Linked DNA regions of Homo sapiens. The protein of the gene in region 3 interacts with the protein of the main gene of each other region in a biochemical or structural test. Each region holds a gene or a part of one and is shown on either strand. Other genes may lie near its edges.

The links.
Region 1: of the proteins of PDGFRB (region 3) and PTPRE, one has a biochemical effect on the other in vitro, tested with the Homo sapiens proteins (one large-scale study listed by IntAct).
Region 2: the proteins of PDGFRB (region 3) and PARD3B interact in a test that uses a peptide from one of them, tested with the Homo sapiens proteins (one large-scale study listed by IntAct).
Region 4: the proteins of PDGFRB (region 3) and CAV3 form a complex in vitro, tested with the Homo sapiens proteins (one study listed by BioGRID).
Region 5: of the proteins of PDGFRB (region 3) and PTPRG, one has a biochemical effect on the other in vitro, tested with the Homo sapiens proteins (one large-scale study listed by IntAct).
Region 6: the proteins of PDGFRB (region 3) and PATJ interact in a test that uses a peptide from one of them, tested with the Homo sapiens proteins (one large-scale study listed by IntAct).
Region 7: the proteins of PDGFRB (region 3) and SNTG1 interact in a test that uses a peptide from one of them, tested with the Homo sapiens proteins (one large-scale study listed by IntAct).

Annotation. Positions count from the first base shown.
Region 1 is NC_000010.11:128,067,603-128,071,102, forward strand, and holds part of PTPRE (receptor-type tyrosine-protein phosphatase epsilon isoform 1 precursor), read left to right. Parts: intron 1-520; coding exon 521-684; intron 685-1,037; coding exon of another isoform or gene 1,038-1,260; exon of another isoform or gene 1,261-2,083; intron 2,084-2,089; coding exon 2,090-2,225; intron 2,226-2,698; coding exon 2,699-2,848; intron 2,849-3,205; coding exon 3,206-3,299; intron 3,300-3,500. UniProt on the Homo sapiens protein: Isoform 1 plays a critical role in signaling transduction pathways and phosphoprotein network topology in red blood cells. May play a role in osteoclast formation and function.
Region 2 is NC_000002.12:204,548,475-204,551,974, forward strand, and holds part of PARD3B (partitioning defective 3 homolog B), read left to right. Parts: intron 1-3,500. UniProt on the Homo sapiens protein: Putative adapter protein involved in asymmetrical cell division and cell polarization processes. May play a role in the formation of epithelial tight junctions.
Region 3 is NC_000005.10:150,149,346-150,152,845, reverse strand, and holds part of PDGFRB (platelet-derived growth factor receptor beta isoform 1 precursor), read left to right. Parts: exon of another isoform or gene 1-507; intron 508-3,500. UniProt on the Homo sapiens protein: Tyrosine-protein kinase that acts as a cell-surface receptor for homodimeric PDGFB and PDGFD and for heterodimers formed by PDGFA and PDGFB, and plays an essential role in the regulation of embryonic development, cell proliferation, survival, differentiation, chemotaxis and migration.
Region 4 is NC_000003.12:8,732,634-8,736,601, forward strand, and holds the start of CAV3 (caveolin-3), read left to right. Parts: upstream 1-1,168; 5' UTR 1,169-1,243; coding exon 1,244-1,357; intron 1,358-3,968. UniProt on the Homo sapiens protein: May act as a scaffolding protein within caveolar membranes. Interacts directly with G-protein alpha subunits and can functionally regulate their activity. May also regulate voltage-gated potassium channels.
Region 5 is NC_000003.12:62,201,571-62,205,070, forward strand, and holds part of PTPRG (receptor-type tyrosine-protein phosphatase gamma isoform 1 precursor), read left to right. Parts: intron 1-1,602; coding exon 1,603-2,380; intron 2,381-3,500.
Region 6 is NC_000001.11:62,158,480-62,161,447, forward strand, and holds part of PATJ (inaD-like protein), read left to right. Parts: intron 1-2,428; coding exon 2,429-2,575; 3' UTR 2,576-2,968.
Region 7 is NC_000008.11:50,698,407-50,701,906, forward strand, and holds part of SNTG1 (gamma-1-syntrophin), read left to right. Parts: intron 1-3,500. UniProt on the Homo sapiens protein: Adapter protein that binds to and probably organizes the subcellular localization of a variety of proteins. May link various receptors to the actin cytoskeleton and the dystrophin glycoprotein complex.

The DNA.
Region 1 (3,500 bases), on a different chromosome or scaffold from region 3:
TCTGGGCAAGGGAATTAAACTCATGGGCTCTGGGTCCAAAAGCTGAGAGAGGCTCTGAGGGCAGGTCTGGGAGACTCCAAAGAGCAGGCCGACTGCATCATCTGTCCTCCCAAATGTAAGACAGCTTTGCCCAAGGAAGGATGTGCTGTTGGTGATTACTCAGCACCACCGGCCTGAGGTGGGACTGTCCAGGCAAGATGGGCCATGGCCGCCCTGCTTGCACGGGGGTCTGTGAGCACACAGACCAACTTTGGGGATGTGTCTGGCTGCTTGGGCCCTGCCTGACCTGGGCATAGACGGTTGCTGCGGGCCCTGTTCTGTGGCCCCAAAAGCAGCACATGTTCAGAGTCGGCAGGGGTAAGGTCCAGGCTGTCTGGCTCAGGCAGGCCCTCTGTGGATGGGCCCCTCCCCTACGCAGCCCCAGCACAGGGGAGCCCACGGCGGCGTCCTCAGAATGAGATGCTGGGGGAGCAGGGGGAGGATTGTTTCACCCACTCTTGTCTCCCCGCGTCCCCCGCAGCAGCTCCCCGACGGCTGCAAAGCCCCCAGGCTGGTCTCACAGCTGCACTTCACCAGCTGGCCCGACTTCGGAGTGCCTTTTACCCCCATTGGGATGCTGAAGTTCCTCAAGAAAGTAAAGACGCTCAACCCCGTGCACGCTGGGCCCATCGTGGTCCACTGTAGGTACGCTGTGGGGGCCACGGGGCGGGACCCTCAAGGGCAGGCCACAGTGGGATGACTCATCCTCATGGGCAATGCCAGGGGACCAATATCAGGGTGGGCAGAGGTTTGGGCAGGGCTGATGTGAACACAAATGTCAGTGACTGAGCCAGGCCCCAAGAACCCTACAGGAGAATGTTCAGAGAGCCCCCTCTTCATCCCAGTCGATAAAACCCACCAAAGCCAGGAGGCTCCGGTTGATGGTGGGAATGGAGTTCTGGGCAGGTCTGCTTGGCCGCCCTCACCTCTCCCCGGGAATCCCAAGTCACCTCTGGGAACCAAGATGGAAATGAGAGAAAGCCCCCTGGTTTCTACAGGAAGCCCCCCAACAACACACAAGTCGTTATGGAAGAGCACACCATGCTCAGATGGGCCCCCACAGCAGAGTCTTCCAGAACACGCTGTCCTGGAGACCAGGGTCCGAGGACCAGGCTGCCCCTCGCCAGCTGCCACTTCAGCCTCGGTTTCCTCACCTGTGATGGGAAGGACAGCCTCGGCGGAGCCTGTGACTGGCATCTGGGTGGGCTTTGCACAACATGAAGAATTACTCAAATGTACAGCCAAGGCCACCCCACAACCCCCTGTCCACAGAGAGCCCCACTTGTTCCTGGCAGTGATTGGCCTCACCAGGGTATCACTTTGATTAGATACTAAGTTTCCATCTGTTACAGACAGGTTCATTCTGAGTATCACAGCACTGCCAGGGACAAAAGCCACCTGCACGCAGTGATGCAGGCGCTCTGCACCTGTCATGCAGGTGTTCACGAGAAGCCGTCCAGGAACCCCCGAAGAACGGGCTTTCCCCAAGTCTGAGCAACACTCGCTTGCTGGGGCCAAGCAGAGGCTGGACCCCACCCCACCCACCCTCCAGTGTAGCTCATACTGGGAAGAATTTGCAGGGTCAGATAACAGTAATCTGACAGATGCCACCTCACTTAATGCCCCGAGTCAGATGACTTGGTTTGCCCAGTTTGACAGAGAGGGAGGCTGGATACCAGAGCTGTTGCATAGTTGATCTGAGGTCCCTCTGCTCCCAGGGGGACAGATCTAGGATGCCAATCACACATATAAGAAGAAGACACTGTTTGGTAAGTGAGAAAAATTCTCCACACAGCCTAATCCGAGGCTTACTGCACCAGCTGTTAATGTGCCTCTTAGTAGAGTGTCGGTGGCTATCAGAGGACCGGCCTGAGATCACTTTACTGAGACCACAGCTCCCTCTGGTGGCTGCACTGTAGCTTTGCTCCTAATTAACCAAAAAAACAAAAAGTTGCATCCAGTGACCTGGGTGCGCAGGCCCCTTCGGGGCCTTTCATTTACTTCGGGAGGAGTGTGACTCACGACGCAGCATCTTTCTCTTTCCCCAAAGCGCGGGCGTGGGCCGGACGGGCACCTTCATTGTGATCGATGCCATGATGGCCATGATGCACGCGGAGCAGAAGGTGGATGTGTTTGAATTTGTGTCTCGAATCCGTAATCAGCGCCCTCAGATGGTTCAAACGGATGTGAGTCATGCCTTCCTCTTGCCCTGATCTAGCTTCCCAAAGCAAACCCGATGCCTTCGCCACACAGGTGTGCAGGGCCCTGGCTCTGATGGGCACGTGGCAACCAGCCTGGGCCTGGCCTGGCTTCGCTCCCCATAGCCTTCCCTGCCCACGCGTGGGACCTCAGGGACTCCCTCGTCCTCATCTTTCCCTCGTATCCTCATGTGAGATGGGGCAATCCTACTCCCCCAAACGGTGCATGTACACAGTGCGTGGCGTGCTCACCAATGTGAGGCTCTGCTGCTACCGTTCTCCTTACTCAAGGGCATAAATGGTCGTTATCCGTGGCCGGTACTCTGACTCTTGCCTCACACCTCCTTGTGTTGGCAAAAAGAGAAAAAGAAGAAAGCCGCCCTCTTTGGTCTGCCAAGCTCCACGTGGGCCAAGACTGCAGGGCAGAGTTGAGGGTGTGGGCACCCCTGGCCTCTCTGCAGATGCAGTACACGTTCATCTACCAAGCCTTACTCGAGTACTACCTCTACGGGGACACAGAGCTGGACGTGTCCTCCCTGGAGAAGCACCTGCAGACCATGCACGGCACCACCACCCACTTCGACAAGATCGGGCTGGAGGAGGAGTTCAGGGTGAGTACAGCTGACCCTCCTCTCCATCCTGGTGTAAGCAGCCAAGGGCACGAGGAAAACAGGTGACCATTTAAAGGAAGCCTCTTTCAATCACTTGCCCCTTAACTGACCTCAGAAAAAGCAGGGGCAATACCTGAGCCATGATTTACAAGGGAAGAAGGATCAGGTGGCTTTCAGAGCCTCATAGCAGCCCTACTAGGCACACATTTGTATTTCCCAATGCTAAGGAGGCTTCCTGGGTTGGAGAGTGGTTTCCTTTGAGCAGGCGTCCTTGCCAGCAGCACTAGTCCTCGGCTGAGCAATGTGCTCAGGAGTGTCAGAGGTTTAACTGTGTCATTATATCCTTCTCTGCTGCAGAAATTGACAAATGTCCGGATCATGAAGGAGAACATGAGGACGGGCAACTTGCCGGCAAACATGAAGAAGGCCAGGGTCATCCAGATCATCCCGTGTAAGGCACCCGTGGCGTGGCTTGGGCAGGGCTGGGGCGGGGCTGGTGCCGGAGGCTTTCATCCTGGAGAAGCCATTGACCGCTTACCCCTGTGCACCAGGGTCAAAAGCAGGGTGTCCTCTGGCCTCAGGCTAAGGGCTCCTGTGTGCTGTACCAAATGTCAGGTAGAAAAGACACCTGTGAAGCACCAGCTGACCCAGA
Region 2 (3,500 bases), on a different chromosome or scaffold from region 3:
GACAAGTAAGTCGTAGATTTGGGTTTAGAAACCAGGAACTGTGTCTTTAGATGTTTGCTCTCAGCCATTAACTGCATAGCCTAGTACTATGTATGTTGTTATGAATTGGAATTTATCCATATTGTTTGTTTTTTAATGCTTGATTTAAAAAGACATTTCCATCTACTAACTGCTATATCACATCAACCTAAAAATAGCAATTTTGCTTCTGGAATAGTGATGGGATATCCACAAGTTTCTCTTAATTATATATTTTATGAGGTCTACATGTAGAAAATCTAGTTTCTGAGGCAAATATTGTAGGATTTGCAAATCAACTATGAAAAATATTCCTCAGTCTAACTACAAATGGGAAAATGGGCAAGATCTTAGACATCCAGGTGGCGAGTGCTATAAAGAACCAAATTTGGTGGGAACATGAATGTAAAGTAAGTCCATTATTTTCTGAGGCACTGAGTAATGTAGATGGGAGAAAGACAGGTTTCAAGATTGAGGATGAAGTTGAGGTTTCTAAAGTTTGGAAAGTAAGTGAAGTCCAAGAATGCCATTCTATATTTCGTGGACAGCGTCTGAGAAGTAACCACTACCTGTTGAGAACAAAGAAAACCTATTTGTGGAATGTTGGGAACCCCCTGAATCAACATCAGATAAGGCCAGAGGTTGATGCGATCCTGAAGATACAGGGGGAGCTTTTGGGAAGGCTTTAATTATGCTCTGAAGTCTGGGCCTTTGAGGTTCCTGCCACCATTTGATGAACTCCATTGGAAACGTGGTGGACTGAGAGGTGAGAACTGTGGGATTGCTTATCTCCGAATCCTGACACTTTATCAGTGTCCCAGCCTCCAAATCCAATTTAGTGAAGTTGTTAGTGGAGAAGTGATTGTCTTCTTATGTGCTTATGGTGGGGATCGTTGAGTAATTAGTTAAATTTATCATCAAAATTATGTGTCACAGGTGAATGGGTAATTGAGCTGTATCCTGCAGGGACTCTCAACCCTGGCTGAACTTCAGTAACCTCTAATTTTCACATTAAACATTTTAAACATTACAAATACCTGTGTCCCTTCCCCCAAGATTCTCATTCATTGGGTTAGGAGTGGGTCCTGGGCATAGGTATTTTAAAAAGCACTCCAGGTGATTCTAATGCCCAGCCAAGGTTGAGAATCACTAATCTACTCTAATCTTTTCGTATGGCTGAACTCATTGGATTTTAAACTCTTTTGATGGCAGATACTGTGTCTTAGATATCTACACACCAATCTGTTATTAAGCAACAGAATAAGCACAATACATGTTATTTGTTAATGGGATTATTATTATGAAGTGCAGGGCTTAAAACCTTGCTGTCTAGGGATTCAAACCTTTTAAGTGTCTTTCACTGATTTACAGAAAGTGAATTTATTACACATTGTTTTTCAAAATGAATTTTGACATTTCTGGCCTTTTCTCATTAAAAAAAAACAAACAAATAAAAGCATGGAATTTGTTAGAGTATTTATTGACCTTTTAGTGCCATTAGGAATACTCCTACTCCTACCCTTAAAGAATTCTTCCTATAGAAGGTGCTCAAATAATTGCTTAAAGTGAACATTCATTTTATATAGACAGTTGTCCCTTAGTATCCATAGGGGATTGATTCCAGGACTTCCCTCGGATACCAAAATCTGCAGATGCTCAAGTTCCTGATATAAAATGCTGCAGTGTTTGCATGTAATCTACACACATCCTCCTGTATACTTTAAGTCATCTCTAGATTATTTATAATACCTAATACAATGTAAAAGCTATTTAAACAGTTGTTATACTATACTGTTTAGGGAATAGTGACAAGAAAATTGTGTGTGTGTGTTCAGTACACGTAGTTTTTTTTCTAAATATTTTTGATCTGGGGTTTGGTTGAATCCGCAGATGCGGAATGCATGGATGCGGAGGGCTGACTGTGTGTGTGTGTGTGTGTGTGTGTGTGTGTGTGTGTATTCACTGAGGATGAAGTGAATAAGGGAAAGGCTTGTCTAGTAATGAGGATGTATAGTGTGTTCTGGGGTTGGAATGAATGAGAAATAAGAGCATTGAATTCGTGGAATAGCAGGCATGCTGGAATTTACAAAGGCCAATTTGTGGCTCTGACTGCGTATGTGAGTACACCCTTTTTTGGAAAGGAAAAATTATATTTGATAGGGTTTTCAAGATGAATCTTTTCTGTATTCAGATATTTTGAATAATATGTTTGTTTTACAAGTTGAGGCAGCTTCCCAGAACTGGGAGTAGTCTGATTAGACTAACAATTCCATTCCCTGATTAACTGTGGGATCGGAATCTAAGAGAATTTGTGTAGTTAGAAGAATCTGGTATGATAATGTGTGGGAGTAGCCTGGAGGAATAGGCTAGAACTCTTGAATTTCTAAACTTTTCAGGCTTTGATGCCTTGTTACCTAAATAGATTTTAAGGTTCTTGTATACATAAGCTAGGCCCAGACTGGATTCCTCAAATGCTTTTCAATTGATTGGGCACTGACTTACTTGAGTGCTTTATTTCCTATTCAGACCTCACTTCTTTACAGCATGTGGACAGAACTGACTCGCCATCAGCATTACACATGCTTCCAACTTGGTTTTGGTTCTGCTACTCAGCTTGCATTGAGCAGCTTCTAAGTTTGCAAACAGAGGGCTCGTGGGGCCTGCTGTGACCCACAGACATATTTTTGTAGGTCTGCTCAGTGTTATATTTTGACTTAGTTGTCAGCATTTAAATATTTTGAGATTTCATGCAAAACTCCAGATTCCTATCTTCTTTGGGGGAAAAGCAAATTGGAAGCTCTGACAATGCTGGGCTTTACTTTCCCACATAGCAACCATCAGTTGGAGCTGAGACACCTCTGCTCTCTTTAGAAAGAATTATTAATGCTTCAGTCTCCATTATTGCTTCCCTAACAGTGAGGATAAGTTATTGTCATCATGCTTGACTGTTTTTACTCTGTGCTTATTTTCTCACTTATGGCCTTAATTCATGGTTGCTATTTGGCCTGCTGGTGGGCATTTGAGTTTGTGCTCCTGGATCTTCTCTCCCCTCCCTCCTCTTTCTCTTTCTCTCCCTCTCACACACACATCCCCACACACCCTCTGTGTATAATCCATGCACATAGGGTTTGCTGAACCGGGTTTGGCTGGTTATCTGAGCTGAGTTAATTGCCCTGTGCGCGATTGGGAGCCACAGCCCTGATTTGTAGCTTGAGGCCCTGTGCTTAATCAAGTGGCTTAGTTAACCAGGAATTCATTCCCAGGGTATTCTGTGCTACAGATTCCCTTTGAAGAAGTTGGGCAAATGGTAATGTTGTCAGATTTTTGTGAGACTATTTTATGAGTGGACTGTTAAAGACATCTGAGGAGTGTGTTAAACATTCAGAGCTTTGGGCCTCTCTTGGAAAATCTAAAGCAGTGTAGTGCAGTAGAACTTTCTGGGATGAAGAGATGTTCTAGATCTGCATCTTTCAAGAGGGCAG
Region 3 (3,500 bases):
CTTCACAGCTGGACCTCTGGCCACTGGCTGAGAGAACCACTGCTCTCCTGGCCTCCTGCATTGGAACACTTGGCTGTGAAATTAATCTGCAACCTGCAAAAGGCTCTGCCCACAGAAGGGACCTGGACACCATGTATGTTCCAAAGATCCGTGTCCATCCTCCAGGCACAGGCCACAGTCTGACTCTGAGACCAGCTGCCTTCTAGGCTAAAGGAGGGTGCTCTGGGCATTGGCTCAGAACAGGCTGCTGCTGAATGCAGTGGGAAGGGAGAAAGGGATGAAAAGGTCTTCTGAAATGCCCACCCATTTCTTGCATTTGATTCAGAACCCAGTGGGCAGTGGGTTCTTGGAATGGGAATCTTTTTGGTGCCCCCTGTCTTCTGACCCAGAGCGTTAGGAGGGAAGGGAAGGGGTGTTGGGCCCCTTCCCAGGGTCAGGGCTTGTAGCACCTCAGCTGGGAAGCAGTGTGAGCATGATGATATAACAGGAACCAACTCGTTCTTAGCACTTTCTGTGTCTACTTCAATTGTGCTTTACATCTGTTACCTCAAAGTTGCTGCTGTATTCCTCAGCACTTGGAACATGCTGGGCATTCAGGACATTCTTAGTAAATATTTACTGGATTAATTTAACCATCGAGGCTGGGCACGGTGGCTCACACATGTAATCCCAGCACTTTGGGAGGCCGAGGCGGGTGGATCACCCGAGGTCTGGAGTTTGAGACCAGCCTGGCCAACATGGTGAAACCCTGTCTCTACTAAAAATACAAAAATTAGCCAGACGTGGTGGTGCGCACCTGTATCCCAGCTACTCAGGAGGCTGAGGCACTAGAATTGCTTGAATCCAGGAGGCGGAGATTGCAGTGAGCCTAAGCGACAGGGCAAGACTGTCTCAAAAAAAATAAATAAATAAATAAATAAACCGTCACAGCAACCTCAAAATTAGATATATAAACTCTCCCCACTTTTTTTTTTTTTTTTTTTTGAGATGGAGTCTCACTCTGTTGCCCAGGCTGGAGTGCAATGGTATGATCTTGGCTCACCGCAACCTCCGCTTCCCAAGCTCAAGTGATTCTCCTGCCTCAGCCTCCCAAGTAGCTGGGATTACAGGCGTGTGCGCCACCATGCCCAGCTAATTTTTATATTTTTAGTACAGATGGGGTTTCACCGTGTTGGCCAGGCTGGTCTCGAACTACCTGACCTCAAGTGATCCGCCTGCCTCAGACTCCCAAAGTGCTGGGATTACAGGCGTGAGCCACCGCACCCAGCTAAACTCTCCCCATTTTACAGGTGAGAAAGTGCGCAGAGTCAGTTGCCTAAAGTCCCACAGCTCGGAAGTGGCGGAGCTGGGATTTGCACCTGGGTGTTTCTGACTCCAGATCCCCTTGATGAGAGGCTGGATGGGGCCTGGGATGCCCCTGGGGATCCAGTGTAAACCCTGAGAATGTGCCTCAGCTGTGGGGGCCCTCAGCATTCCAGAGGTAGTCATCAGACCCTAGAACCCTATGGGACTGTGCACAGATCGTTCCCTTCTGGGGCCTCAGTTTTCCCATCAGTCAAACGAGGAGGTTGACCCAGATGATGGTAAATCTTTCTTCCAGCCCTAAAACAATTTCAGGATTCCAAGCCATGCCAGCCCAGATTGGCAGCTGCACAAGCCTTGCTGTGTACTCAGGGATCATGCATATTTAATTTCACAATGAAAGGGTTTTTTTCTTACCCTTTTTCTACACATTACAGAAAGAGGTCAGGATCGATGACCACTAATGGAAAACTTTAACCTGCAATAACAATGAGGAACTTTCTGACAATTAGTGTGGCCCCTTAACGTGCTCAGTTTCTTGAGGAGCTCAGAGGGCTCCTACAGTTCCCACATGCCCATTTTCCTGAGATACTGAGCAGGGAGGGTCGGGGAGGAAGGCCCACTAGGGGCTGTGTGTGGATGCTGTAACCCTTTAGGTCTCTTCCAGTGCTGCGTTTTCAAACCTCATATGCTCTAATTTCAAGAGGAAGCAAGGCTTTGGCCCAGATGAGTGATGGGATCCAGAGGTGAGGGGGGGAATGGACACAGGGACCTACCTCTGGTGGGAGTGGGTGTGAAATTCCCATGCTTGTTGCTTCCAGTGTGGAAGCCCACTTCACATCCCTCCTGAGCCCTCAGGCCCAGATCCTCAGGATAAAGTCTTCCTGAACCTCCAAGCCTTAGCCCCAGAGCCCACCCTGCCCCCGCCCCCTACATCCACCAGATGCTTCCTGGGGTAGCCCACCCCCAGCCTGGTGCAGGAGGCTGAAAATCAAAGTGTACTGCTTTAACCGCATTAAAATCCCCTCCTCTCCTCAATTCAGATCAGGGCTATTTGATGTCTCAGGTGCCTGAAACCTTTTATCTGCCAGAGGTACCAGCTTCTCCGCCCTGTGATGGAGAGGGCTGTCCCTTGGGAGGGTCAGGGGGTCTGAAAGTTCCTGAATGTCAGAGATGAAAAGGACTTTTGGGGGTCACCTGATCCAACTGCTTTATTGTATGGATGGGAACTAAGGTCCAGAGAGGGGAAGGGTTGCACCTAAGGTCCGTACAGATCATTGGTGATGACGCTGAGCCTGGGACCTGGGCTCGCCTTTGTTCCACCACAGGTGCTGGGTCTTTACCATCTCTCTGAAGGCCTGGAGAGACCCAGCTCCACCTCTGTGGTTCAGGGCTCAGCCTCCAGGTCTGTCTGGGCTATGGGCTGAAAAGGAGCAAAGCCGTCCCAACAAGAAATGGGAATCTTCCTGGGTGGTTTGCTGGACCCCCGAGCTTTTGGCCATACCACTTCTTCATTCTAATCATAGTTTCCTCTTATAATAAAGTGGGGAGAAGCCAAGGGAGAAGTTTAGTGGCCCCCAGAGGTCCATCCAGCTCTGCCCTTAGCCCCTGAGAGTTCCTACCATGCTTCTTGTGACTGTTTTGCCACATCCTCATTGCTGCTGCTCTGTTACCTTCCCTTCTGAGAAGTGGAAACCCAAGGGCAGTGACACCACCAGCTTCTTCACTTCTGAGGCTGAGCCTCAGTGGTTATAGGGTGGGGCAGGGTTTCCAGTTAGCCTTAGAGGGGTAGGGCTCAGCTTTCTAAACATGTCACAGAAGCCCTGGCCCCTCCTGGCCCAGAGCATTGAAGGTAAAGGTGCAGGTTTGACCTGGTGGACTGTGGGTGGCTCCCATCTCACCTGTATTTGTGTCCTTATCAGTGTCCAACCCAGGGCCTATCTGCTGAATGGATAGTGAAATAATCACTAGATAAATAAATGCATGTAGAGATGCATAAATGGATTGGTGGGTGGGTGGATGGATGGATGGATGGATGGATAAATCGATGGAGACAGACAGATGGCCTCCCCTTTAGTCCAGGGCACAGAGATGGCTTCATGAGTACTCATCCTCCTGAGGGCCCCATGCTTAGAAGGGCCTATGTTTGGTTTAATGCTCTGCAGTCATCATTTTGAAATTGTTAATAATTTTTAACA
Region 4 (3,968 bases), on a different chromosome or scaffold from region 3:
CTTCCCCGGTGTCCTCAGAGTAAGTTACTGACTCCTATGGACTTCTAAGACCAGCTCTTTGTAAAATATCTCTGATCTGTGGCACTTACCGCACAGTATTATAATCACTTATTGTTTTAATTAGTCTCCCCACCTTGACTGGGAGCACTTCAAGGCGGACAGAGCCTTGTTGGTCTGTTTATCCCCAGCTATTAGCAAATCCTGAATGAAGGAGTGAATAGACAGGTAAATGGAAGCACAGACCCTGACCCCTGAGGATTCAGAGTTGCCATCCTTCATGCTGCTGGAGCCCAGGGGAAGGCTGAGTTAGAAGAGGGCACAGAAAAACCGAGCAGGTATCTAAGAGAGGTGCACCCCACTGATGCATGTGGAGTGTCTGGGACCCAAGAAAATCCTGGAAGCTGTCACTAGGGCAGGGTGAAGGGTAGCACGAACATGGACTTCATGTTCCCCCCACCGGGCATATCCCAGTGCAGGCTCCAGACGGCAGACGAGGGGCAGCCCCACAGCAGCTTCCTCTCCCTGTTTCATCCCCAGCCTGGCCCCACACCACAGTCCATCAACTCCTGCTCCAGGTGGAAACCTCAGAAACCCACAAAGCTCGGACCTGCTCCAGGTCACCAAGCAGCAGGGCCAGGCACTGGCAATCCAACGAGAAGCCCCACTACATCGCATTCCAGCTCCTGAAGCCATTCCCTGGGTAGGAGAGCCCTGATTGTTATTATCATCTCTCCATTTTACAGATGGGGACAGAGTGGCCTAGAGAGGTGAAGTGTGCCAAAGGTCACACAGCCAGCCAGAGGCAGAGGAGGGACTAACCCCACTTCCCTCCACGGGCAGTGCACCCCAAAGGAGCCAAAATGCTGACAGCAGTGGGGCAAATTCCAGGGGCCCCGGAGCGACCGCCGAGTTGGCCACAGCCACACGATGCATAGGAAACGCTAGGCCCTCTGCACCCTCTCCTGAGGCCCAGTGCCCTGAGGCAGCCCCCTTTAAGGAGCGATCGGCCTTCCAGAAGAGCTCCAGTCTTAATTTTAGCTTGGAGGCCTGCCACAGGAGGCTTTAGAGAGAGGCAGGCTGAAGTTATGTGGGACAGCTGTCAGCCGGCATGCTGGGTGGGGCCTATTTAGCTGGCAGGGACATAAGTCTGGGGACACTGAATTGGTCTCTCTGCCCCAAGTATTTTCAGCCCCAGCCGGCCACACAGCTCGGATCTCCTCCTGTGGATCCCCCCAGCTCTGCGATGATGGCAGAAGAGCACACAGATCTCGAGGCCCAGATCGTCAAGGATATCCACTGCAAGGAGATTGACCTGGTGAACCGAGACCCCAAGAACATTAACGAGGACATAGTCAAGGTAGGCTCTGCAGGCCTGCCTCGGCGGGCGGAGAGTGTCAGGTTTGCGAGACGTGGGCGCTTGGCAGGGGAGGGTATCTGCTGCAGACACAGTTTCCCTGAAAAGAGACTTGTTGCTCTGTTGTCTCTGTATCACCCCCCCAACCCCACCCCACCCCCAAAAAAAGGCTTCTAAATCACCGAAGGATCTTTAGCAAAATCAAGAGCAAAAAATTAGCCTCATCTCCATGACCTAAGTGCTAATCAGGGCAGGAGGAGCGAGTCACAAAGAAAATCCCTCCTTACTACTGTGACGCTCCTGCCACTCACTCCTGGCTCTCACCCTGGGAGGAACAGGAACGGGCGGCCAAGTTGGGCTCCTTTCTGTGCCAAGGGGCATTTCTGCGGTCTCTCCAGTGGGTGCAGGGTTAATCCCCAGAGGGCAGCTTCCAGCAGGGCCGGCAGCCCCTCGAGGTACACTCACTCCCCCAGAGCACTGCCCAATATCTGTCCCCAAGGCCGAGGGCCATGCCCAGCCCTCCCCTAGCTACCCCCTCACCCCAGGTCTAGTGGCCAGGACAGGGCAGACGGCACCCGGGACCCTCGAAGAGAAAGCTCGGGGTTGTCTAGCCCTCAGGGAGTCTCTCAGCGTCTGAAGTTGGGCCTCTTCCCTCGCCTCCTGGTGACACTAGCGGCCCTGCTGCCTCCAGGCCCACACCTTCAATCCAACTTCCAGCCAGTACCCAGAGGGATCTTTCTTTTTTCTTTTTGAGACAGTCTCTCTCTGTCCCCAAGGCTGGAGTGCAGTCGCACACTCACGCCTCACTGCAGCCTCAACCTCCCAGGCTCAAGTGATTCTCCCTCCTCCACCTCCTGATTAGCTGGGACCACAGGCGAGTGCCACCATGCCCAGCTAATTTTTGTATTTTTAGTAGAGACTGGGTTTCATTATGTTGACCAAGCTGGTATCAAACTCTTGGGCTCAAGTGATCCTCCTGCCTCCCAAAGTGCTGGGATTACAGGTGCAAGACTCCACAACTGGCTCAGAGGTACCTTTCTAAAGCAGAATTCCTCCAAGAAGGGTCCCCAGCCACCAGCATCTGAGTCACTGGAGGGGCTGTTAAGAGGCCAGTGTCTGAGGCCTCTCAGATCCTACTGAAAGCATTGGAATCTCAGGCCAGTGCTGTCCAATAGGGATACTGTTACCACAAGGAATTTAAAATTTTCTAGCAGCCACATTTTAAAATGCGAAAGCAAACAGGTGAAATTAATGTTCCTGATATTTCTTACTTAACCCTATATATCTAAAATAGTATTATTTCAACATGTAAGCAATATAAAACAATTATCAATGAGCTATTGTACAGTCTTCAAGTTTGAAATCCAGTGTGCTTCCTATACCCACAGTATATTTCAGTTCAGACCCCACATTTTCATCCGAAATGCTTGTTCTGCATTTAGATTTCATAAAATGTACATGTGAAAATCGATTCGCATGCCTGTACTGTTTCAAACATTCTGCAAAAATTTTTCAATAATGAAATCGGGGTTTACATTTTAATTAAAGTTAAACAAAATCTAGAATTCTTCAGTTTCACTAGCCACATTTCAAGCGCTCAAAGCTCCTGGCCACTGGATCAGACAGGCCTGTATTGCGGTCTTTCAGTGGGGCACCTCCCATGCTGGAGAAGCCTAGCCTCTCCACGTGGCTGTCCAAACCCAACACAATCTGGCCCCAACCTGCTTCTTCTGCCTGGTTGGCTCCCACCTGCCAGCCCACCCACCAGAGTACATTCCTGTGCCATTGCCAGAAGTGCCTGTCCTCTCTTCTCCAGGTGGTGAATGCCTCACTCAGCCTTCAAGGCCCAACTCAAATGCAACCTCCTCCAGAAAGCCTTCCCTGACTCCTCCAGGCAATTAGTTGCTCCCACTTCTGTCCCCCTGCTTCACTCAGGGCATTCCTCCACCACAGCTCTTCTTATACTGGATATTATATTTCTATACATCGTTAGTGATGGAGATAGAGTATACAGTATAGCACAGTGTGAAAGCTGAAATGAGGAAAATTAGGAAACAAATTTCACAAACTGTAAAGCACTATATACATGTAAATAAAATTGTACCTGTAAAATATTATTAGTTATGGTTTCCATCAGTGTCATCTAGCAGGAATAGTCCTGGACTTGACTTTAATAGACTTGATTTCAAATCCAGTCCATTTTACCTAAAAATGATAACACTGGACAAACCAACTAGGTTTTCTGAGACTCAGTTTCCCCTGTAAAGTGGGAATAATATCATTTCCCAATTTACCTCCACCAGGTAAACGAATCTCAAAGCAGCACTGTGCGTTAGAAATATAGCATGAGGATTGAATGAGATGAAGGGTTTGAAAGTGTCTATCACAGTCCCTGGCACCCAGCAAGGATGAGACAGTGTGAGTCAAAGAAGGGTCTCAAAGAGCTTGCAGTCTAGAGGGCAAGAGAGCTAAGCCAGGAGCCTGCGTCATGCCCAGGTAGCCATCTGGTACACCCAGGTGGGCTGCAGGGAGATGGGAAAGAGGATCCCACGGGAGAACATGGTTTCTAAAGGGCACCCACAATGGCTGGTAAGTACAGAGGGAGCCCTTGGAT
Region 5 (3,500 bases), on a different chromosome or scaffold from region 3:
AAATTGCTTTGTCGTGGCTGGTTGTTAATTTGCTTGCAGTTAAAACTGTCACCACGAAGTGGCAGTATAATGTTGTTAAACTGCTCAGTGTAAAGCGGTTATAGTAGAGAAAAAATTACATTATTCACTTTTTATAATTCAGTACCTTATGAACACAAGCTGTGCAACAGTGTTAGGTGGTTATATTATATAATTTTGTGAAGGTAAAAATTCTTCATATTTTTAGTTATGATTTGTGGGATCAGACGATGCAGGACCACAAAGGAGTTAAATCTGTTCCAACCCTTTCATTTGACATATACTCAAATTCAGAGGTTGTCATTTGCGTAAAGTTATATGGATCTGAAAATTTCTGGAACCAGAATTAATATCTTAGTTTCCCCATTCCTGGTTGGTATAATGAATAATTAAAATACTAATCACAGCAGTGGTGATAATAATAATAGCCTAAAATTCACTATGCTCTTCCTGGGTTTCAGGCACAGATTATTTTATTTACTTCTCCAGGCAGCCCACAAGGTCAGTGTTACTGTTGTTCCCGTTTTACAGATGAGGAAACCGAGGCTCAGTGAGTTAAAGTAATGTGTCCAGCATCACCCAGCAGGCAAGCTAAAATTAGACTAATAGCTCAGAGCAGCACTTCTTGTTTTCCTAAGATACCTTATGTGAGTAAAACCCCCAGACTTGAGCCCCAGTTTAGTATGGTGGTAAGAACAAGCCGAGTCTTAGACCCAGGCAGCCCTGCATTTGTGCCTTCCAGGTCATGTACCTTGTGTAAGCTCTTTAACATCTCTGTGTCTGAGTTTCCTCACCTGCAAAATGGGGTGATGATCATGCCTGCCTCCAGAGTAGCATGGAAAGCCCTGGCACACGGTTGGCATTTGTTAATTGGAATTCTTGTTATTGTTGTTGATGTTGTTGTCATCTGTATGGGCTCAGATTTTCCCACGGATCAACTTAGAAACTGCAAGGTACAGTGACTCTGCAGTGCCCAACATGGAGATGCAGAGATGTAAACCAGTGCCCAGAGCATGCAGTGCAGAGCATGGCTCCTGCCTCTGACCCTGTCATTGCAGACCTGGGCAGGCTGCTTTCCCTCCTTGTCCACCCACTTCCTCACTGGGAGACAGTGGGGTTGGACTGGATCACCCAGTATCTTTCCAGACCTAGAGCTGAGTATCTACTCAAGTGTCAGTGATATACATAAAATCAAAGGTCTTCTGCCTCTCATCACCCCAAGAACAGATGACCATCTGATTTTTCCAGTTCATGACTTCTTTGTTGTGTAAGTCAGCTTTAACACTACTTAGTTTTTTTGGCACCTAGCCTCATCTTGGGTAATATCAGTGAAAAGCTGAGTTTGATCGACTAGTTATGCATTTTAACATGTTCACAATTATAAAACCATTAAAAATAAAAGTTGATCACCCATGGACCACCTAATGTCAACTTTATGCCATACATTGGAAAACTCCATAGCATAGATGAGTAAAATCCTCAGAGGGTGACAACCAGGGCCTCATTCCCAATCTCAATTACTGATGCTTCTCTGCTTTTTCTTCTTCTGCCTCTTTTCCACCCTTGCCGGGTGACCCTTTCCAGCCCACAGCGTCTCCTGCCTCTTCAGCCGACATGGCCCCCATCAGCTCGGGGTCTTCTACCTGGACGTCCTCTGGCATCCCATTCTCATTTGTTTCCATGGCAACTGGGATGGGCCCCTCCTCCAGTGGCAGCCAGGCCACAGTGGCCTCGGTGGTCACCAGCACGCTGCTCGCCGGCCTGGGGTTCGGCGGTGGTGGCATCTCCTCTTTCCCCAGCACTGTGTGGCCCACGCGCCTCCCGACGGCCGCCTCAGCCAGCAAGCAGGCGGCTAGGCCAGTCCTAGCCACCACAGAGGCCTTGGCTTCTCCAGGGCCCGATGGTGATTCGTCACCAACCAAGGACGGCGAGGGCACCGAGGAAGGAGAGAAGGATGAGAAAAGCGAGAGTGAGGATGGGGAGCGGGAGCACGAGGAGGATGGAGAGAAGGACTCCGAAAAGAAGGAGAAGAGTGGGGTGACCCACGCTGCCGAGGAGCGGAATCAGACGGAGCCCAGCCCCACACCCTCGTCTCCTAACAGGACTGCCGAGGGAGGGCATCAGACTATACCTGGGCATGAGCAGGATCACACTGCCGTCCCCACAGACCAGACGGGCGGAAGGAGGGATGCCGGCCCAGGCCTGGACCCCGACATGGTCACCTCCACCCAAGTGCCCCCCACCGCCACAGAGGAGCAGTATGCAGGGAGTGATCCCAAGAGGCCCGAAATGCCATCTAAAAAGCCTATGTCCCGCGGGGACCGATTTTCTGAAGACAGCAGATTTATCACTGTTAATCCAGGTAAGTGGTGCAGGTCTTCTTCGAGGGTTCCTGCTCCTGTGAATAGTCGTACCCTTTTTCAAAAAATTGGGAGCAGAAGGTGAAGCTTCAGAAGGTACTTAATATTCTTAGAATCATATATGTCTGTCATAGAAAAGGTGCACACATGTGAAATGTGTATGTGTGTGTCCCTGTTTTACTCCAAAAGCCTACTCTCTTACGCTGGAGTAAGTCTTTCTTTGATATTTGTTTTCTTGCCTCGGAATAACTCCAGGGACTTCAACCAGGCAATGATATACATGAATAAAAAAAGCCATCGATCTTAAGAAGTTTATTTATTAAGATTTCATTCCATATTCATTATATAATGTATCTACAAATGGCTAGTTTGGTGCCAGGGACTGGGCAGGGTGCTGTCCCAGGGGATCCTAGTCCCTGCCTAAAAAGTTTAAAGGGGAAGGCAGACAGATGACAAGACAGTAGCTAGCTGGAGCGCATGCCCAGAAGTTAGGTAGCAGGAACGTTAGAAAGCCAGCAAGCTAGATGGTGGTTAGTCGGCAAGCTAGATGGTTAACTGGCAAGCTGGAAAACTAACTAACTGAAGTTTTCGATTGTGAAATGGTAATAGAGGAAATAAACAGGATGCTGTCCAAGAGAATTATGGAGAGGATAGGGACCTACCTTAATTAAGAAAGGCCACTCTGGAGAAGTGGCTTGTTCATGGAAACCTACAGAATGAAAGGCTTCAGCCTGGGGAGAGCTGGTATTGGCCCATGGTCCTTGCCCAAGAAATACGGCCCTCTCTCCCAGAGCTCCCATTGCTGTGGGAATGAGCCAGTGTATAGACAGTGAGGCCAGGGCATGAGATCCTCATCTCCTGGTGGCAATTTTGTTGCTCTATCATATGCTCAAATCTTAATGAACCATCCTGATAGTTTCTGCAAGGGAGCCATAAGCATGAGGAGTTGTTATTGTTGTGAGGGCTTTTCTTAATAAGAAATTCTTCATTTTGCCAGACTACAAGATGTTTAGCAACAATTTTTTTTGCGTCTAAGCTGTTGTGGAGTTATAAGAGTGCAAAAAAAAAGCAACTGGTAAATATTTATTTGCTTTTGCACTTGTAAACATTAAAATTCATCTA
Region 6 (2,968 bases), on a different chromosome or scaffold from region 3:
GAGGCCAAGGTGGGCGGATCACGAGGTCAGGAGATTGAGACCATCCTGGCTAACACGGTAAAAAACTCCGTCTCTACTAAAAATACAAAAAATTAGCCAGGCGTGGTGGCGGGCGCCTGTAGTCCCAGCTACTCGGGAGGCTGAGGCAGGAGAATGGTGTGAACCGGCGAGGCAGAGCTTGCAGTGAGCCGAGATTGCACCACTGCATTCCAGCCTGGGCGACAGAGCGAGACTCTGTCTCAAAAAAAAAACAAAAAAAAAGAGTTCGAGACCAGCTTGGCCAACATAGTGAAACTCTGTTTCTACTAAAAATACAAAAATTAGCCGGGCCTGGTGGCAGACGCCTGTAATACCAACTACTTGGGAGGCTGAGGCAGGAGAATCGCTTGAACCTGGGAGGTGGAGTTTGCAGTGAACCGAGATCGCACCATTGCACTCCAGCCTGGGCGACAAGAGTGAAACTCCTTCTCAAAAAAATTTAAAAATTCTTTCCTTGCATTACTAAAAAAGATAAATAGCTTAACATAGTTTTTAAAAAATTAATTTACACAGATATCTGAGATTTACTGAAGCCCTTAAATCTTAGCATGTAAAATTTAATAAAATCAACTTTGCCTAGTAATTCTGATTTTATCCAGTAAAATTACTTGTTTAATTTTGTCTTTAATACAGTTGACACATTACTTTCTTAAAAGATTTGAGTGAAGTTGCAAGTTTTGGGGTTTATTTTTGAGACAGAGTTTACTCTTTTTGCCCAGGCTGAGTGCAATGGGATGATCTCAGCTCACTGCAACCTCCGCCTCCCAGGTTCAAGTGATTCTCCAGCCTCAGCCTCCCAAGTAGCTGGGATTACAGGCATGCGCCATCACATCCAGCTAATTTTTGTATTTTTAGTAGAGACAGGATTTCACCATGTTGGCCAGTCTGATCTTGAACTCCTGATTTCAGGTGATCCTCCTGCCTTGACCACCCAAAGTGCTGGGATTACAGGCATGAGCCACCATGTCCAGCCAGTTGCAAGTTATTAATATTTAGTTTTGATATTTTGCCCACAGTATAGACCTGATTTCGAATACTTTTTTTTTTTTTTTTTTTCCTGAGACAGAGCTCACTCTGTCACCCAGTCTGGAGTGCAGTGGCACTATCTCAGCTCACTCCAACCTCTGCAGGTTCAAGTGATCCTCCTGCCTCAGCCTCCCGAGGAGCTGGGACCACAGGCATAAGCCACCACGCCTGGCTAATTTTTTGTAGAGACAGTTTCACCATGTTGCCCAGGCTGGTCTCAAACTCCTGAGCTCAAGCAATCCTCTCGCCTGAGATTCCCAAAGTGCTGGGATTACAGGCATGAGCCACTGCACCCAGCAGGTTTTGAATATTCTTTATTGCACATTCATTTAGAAATTCCACCATTCTCACGGTTTAGAAAACCTGTCTGATTCCCCAGCACCTCAGGACCTCCAAGCTGCACATGGACACAGATCTCAGGAGCGTTAGTGCCTCCTAGCTCGGCTTCTGATTGAGTCGGTCGAGGGCCAAGTGCCTGTGGGCTTTGGTTGCCCACTGAAGTTTGACCTCATTTAGAGGATTCTTCTGGCACTGACTTTTCAAGGGACTGAAACAGTTACCCCTACAGATGGTGAAACCTCCTGTAAATCATTTTTTAAGGTCTTTTCTTCCCTTACCAGTCCAAAATGTTTCTAGTAATATCGTGGCATTTTTAGATATGCAGCTTTAGAGTGAAAAAACCCTGAAGTTTCACTGGCTTTGTGCCGTTTTGAGGAACTATGCATGACTGAGTATATAATAAAAGTAGTCATTTAGAAACCTATTTAGATGATCAAAGATAAAGTGGAAGGTTTTGAATATATTACAAAATTTTAGAGATGCTACACTCGTATATATTTATATGTAGATAACAGCTTTATTGAGATATAATTCACTTACCATACAATTCACCCATTTAAAGACTACACTTATTTTTGACAGATCACAGTGCTGATAGCTTAATAATGCAATGGGAACTCTGTATAATGGTGGTATTTGCAGTAAGACTAACACCAGATTCAGTTCTATCTGCCTTTTTCTGTATATTACGTTTTCATGAATAGGACATGATATGACATCCAATTCCATTTAATACTAAATAGTGAAATAAGGTTCTACTTGTATTAAAAGCAGTGTATCAGTACATTTCTACTAGTATGTTATTTAGATTATCCATAATTATAGTTACTATTCAACCATTATTATTCAAACAGCATATCTTACTTTTTTCCTAATTTAAAACATTACCTAGAAAAAACTTAATTGGTAGTTTTTAAAGTTACTCTTTTAATATGCACACCAGACAGATGTTAGAGGTTTTAATATCAATTTAATATAAACTGTGTTTTACCCTGGATTAAACTGAAATGTTTCTTGTTTGTAGGGAGCAGCTGCAGATGACGGCCGATTAAAACGAGGGGATCAGATTTTAGCTGTTAATGGCGAGACCCTGGAAGGTGTTACTCATGAGCAAGCAGTCGCCATTCTAAAACACCAGAGAGGGACTGTAACCTTAACTGTGCTGTCATGAGCCTCGGGCCTGATCACAAGATAGATGTTGTTGTTTAGAATATCCACAGGCAGATGAAGTTCTGAGTGGGTATGAAAAGCACCCTCAACTAAAATGCACCTTCATTCTTATTTCTTGCCCTCTCTGCTCAGGAGAAATGGCTGAGGTTTCATGTGAATTTCCCAAATCAACAATCATCTCCTAATGTTTCCCAGTTCCTGTCACCTGTTGGCGAGGTTGATTTCTAAAACTTAAATGAGTCTACCTGTTTTGCATTTAATTTCAGTGTTCCGATTTCTTTTTTTTTTTTTTTTTTTTTTTTTGAGACGGAGTCTCACTCTGTCACCCAGGCTGGAGTGCAATGGCGCAATCTTGGCTCACTGCAACCTCGGCCTCCCAGGTTGGAGCGATTCT
Region 7 (3,500 bases), on a different chromosome or scaffold from region 3:
CCCAGGCCTTAGGAGTCACTGCACAGCCCAACACTATGCCTCCCAAACAAATCCCCTCCTGTACTGGTGGGGGAAGGGGGTGAAGTGAAAGATGGGGTGAGCCTGGTTCCAGCATGCCAATGGCTGGAGCCCATGCCATACTTGATTCTCGGTTCTGGCTGTGGGAACCTCTTCCCTGCTTGAGCACCAGATCCCCAGGATACTGTTAGAGCCTCTTTAATGACAAAGGCTGCCACTGCTGCTAGTTTTCAGGACTGTGCACAGCTTGCAAAGAGCTAGGATCAAGAATGGTGTTCTGTTGTAGGTTCCAAGGTCTCGGGAAGTGCATGGGACACTTCCCAGAGCAGGTACTTCTTACAGTCTCCCAGCCACATCCCAAGGTAGATCTAGGGCTTAGAAAAGTCATGGTGCTCTACCGTGGCCTGAATTATATGATTCTATAGTGGGAAATTGGACCACAGAAAGATACTCACTCACCCTCTCCCATATTGGGAATTTACTCTCTTCTCATTTTCAGCCAGTCCCACAGCCACACAGGCTGACTGTTCTTCTTTTTCTGGTCAGATTTTGGAGTTTCTTCGTGTGTTACTGTTGAACTCCTGTGTTCTCTCTTGGATAATATGTTTGTAAACAAAAAAGTTACTGAGGTGGATCTTAATCAATTAGAGATTTATTTTGCCAAGGTTGAGAACATGCCTGGGAAAAAGAAACACAAATCACAAGGAGATCTGTACCCTGTGCTTTTTTTTAAAAAGGGTTCTGGGAACTTCAATATTTAACAGGGAAAAAGCAAGCAGGAAGAGGAAGAAAGAAAAAAAGTCTGGGTAGGCAATGAGATAAGTGGTCACATTCTTGTGAGGATCTTACTAATGAGCAGAAAAGCTACATTTTACATAAAGTAAACATGAAATTACAGCTTTTTGGGAATGAAAGGAAGGCAGTTTTTTCATGACTAACTACCTAAACTTAGCCCTTTGGTATAGTGAGTTTGGGGTCCCAATATTTGATTTTGCTTTCATATGTGCAAAGTGTGATTGTCTACACACCATTGTCATTCTTCTAAGTGGATGAAGTACCCTGGAAAAGCATCTAGTCAGCCATCTTGAAAAAAAAACCTGTTGTTTCTTTGTAATATTGCTTTATAAATCTGAGAGAACTTGGAACAAATCTAACAAAATAGAAGATACTTCTGGAGAAGTGAGAAAATTGAGAAAAATGCAACTGATGAGTTCTTGATATGTTTAGCTATTATTATTATCATTACTATTATTAAATGATACTTTCCAGTTGGCAAAAAAGTATTCTGGAGGCTATTCTTTCTACTGGGGCATAAGTCAAACTATGACAAAAGAGAAATGCATGCAGAGAGCAAGCCATAGAAGGCAAGTTAGGAAATGATACGAATATTTATCTGTATTTATTTTATTGAATCAATACTGACAACAAAAATTTCCAACATTAAGTACTTCCAAGTATTAGATACTAAGCAAAGAATTAAATATAGTATCTTATTTAATCATCAGATCAATTAATTATTTCCACTTTAGTGATGAGTGAAGGAAGCTATATATATGGTAATCAACTTGACAAGGATTACCTATTAATAAATAAAAGAGAGGAGATTCAAATCAAGACAGAATTCTGAAGCTAGAACTTTTGTTCTTATCACCTTATAACAGCTCCTGCATGTGTGTTAGAGAGAGAATGAGGGTGAGAAAGAGGAATATATACATTCTTATTTAAACCTATGTGGATAATCGTGTAAATACTCCTTATTATACTAATACTTCTAGTCAATGCCAGTCTCTAAGAGTATCTTATTTAGTTTTTCAGTTAGTTATATATATATTATTACTTGCATATAACTTGATAATGACTGCAACCGTAAAGGAACACAATCTTTTGAAATGTTATAGGCAGCAAAGGTAGAAACTCTAGTAAAAGAAATCTAGTGTCAATGATTTTAGATGATTATGTTGAAAGTAGATCTTTAAAATGATTGAGCTATAGTCACTTTTCACTAAATTTCTGATAAAGGAACCCCTGCTTTTTCCAAAGTTTCTCCTCCTCCCACCCATCCACTCTTAGCCATCTAAAGCTTAGAGTCTATGCTGCCCCCTTCTCACTTAACTCTCCAATATCTTTTCCTGGCAGGTGCATTCTATGAATTTCTTAGCAGGATCACCTGGTCTTTTTCAGGCTTGCACCAGGTTGCTCTTGCATTTGTCTTTAAGTCCTTGATGGTACTACAGTCTCTCCCTACAATACAACTTTCCCCCTCCTACTTTCCCTCAAGATGATTTATCGTTCCTTATTCTGCTTCCTTAGCATGTTACCTCTATAGCACTGTCATATGCTCGTTATTTTAACATATTTCTCTCCCTCACTAAAATGAGACCTGGGTGCTCAGATGCCATTTGCAGTGTGAGTCAGTTCATGAGAAGTATATTATAAATAACAACAGGAAATGGCAAGAAGTTTTCAGAGATGCTGAAACTATATTTGCAGAGTTGATTAGAGGATGCTTTGTCTGAGAGAGAGTCACGACTTGGGTAATATAACAGAAGATCTTAAATTGAGTTTTAAAAGAGCAAAGGAGTAAAGTTTTGCTAAGAGAATAGAAAATCTTACATGAAGTCCATTTTAAGATCCTATTGCTACATGTGATTTATGAAAAGGAAAAAATAACAAAATTTTCTGACTAATAATGACATTAGATAATATTTTTTATTATAAGGAAAATGAAGGGCAATTTAATAAACCATAAAATTGGCAAGGTTTCTGGAAACTGCAACGTTTAGTTATAGATTTTTGCCAATTTATCAATTTAAAAAGCTAAGGTAGATGTTGAAATATCTGCAGTATAAAGAGAGGGCATACTAAAATTTTTGCTATAGTAGCTTGTCATTATACTGTGTTCAAGTCCAAAATTTATAACCAGATCAATCATCCCATGTCCTTCCCTAGCTTCAGCTCTCAATGTTTCTGCCTCCTTTTCTTTGAATTTCTGAAATGCCTGACTTGGCCCCAGCCAGTCCCATCCACTCTCTGGAAAGAACACCCTTTTTCTATACTTTATCTTTGATATTCTACTCGTTTTCAGCCACTGTTTAAAATTTACTTCCTAGAGAACATTTCTCTAGCTTTTCAATCTATTGTGATATAATACCTTTTTCTTCCTCTTCTTCTTCTTCTTCTTCTTCTTCTTCTTCGTGTTCCTCTTCCTCTTCTTCTTCCTCCTCTTTTTCTTCCTCTTCTTCTTCTTCCTTCTTCTTCTTCTTCTTTGCCTTCCTCTTCCTCTTCATCTTCCTCTTTTTCTTCTTCTTTTTCTTTTTCTTCTCCTTCTTCTCCTTCTTCTTCTTCTTCTTTCTCTTCCTCTTCCTCCTCCTCCTCCTCTTCTTCTTCTTCTTCTTCTCCTCCTCCTCCTCCTCCTCCTTCTCCCTCTTCTTCTTCCTCTTTTTGAGATGGAGTTTCCCTCTGGTTGCCCACGCTGGAATGCA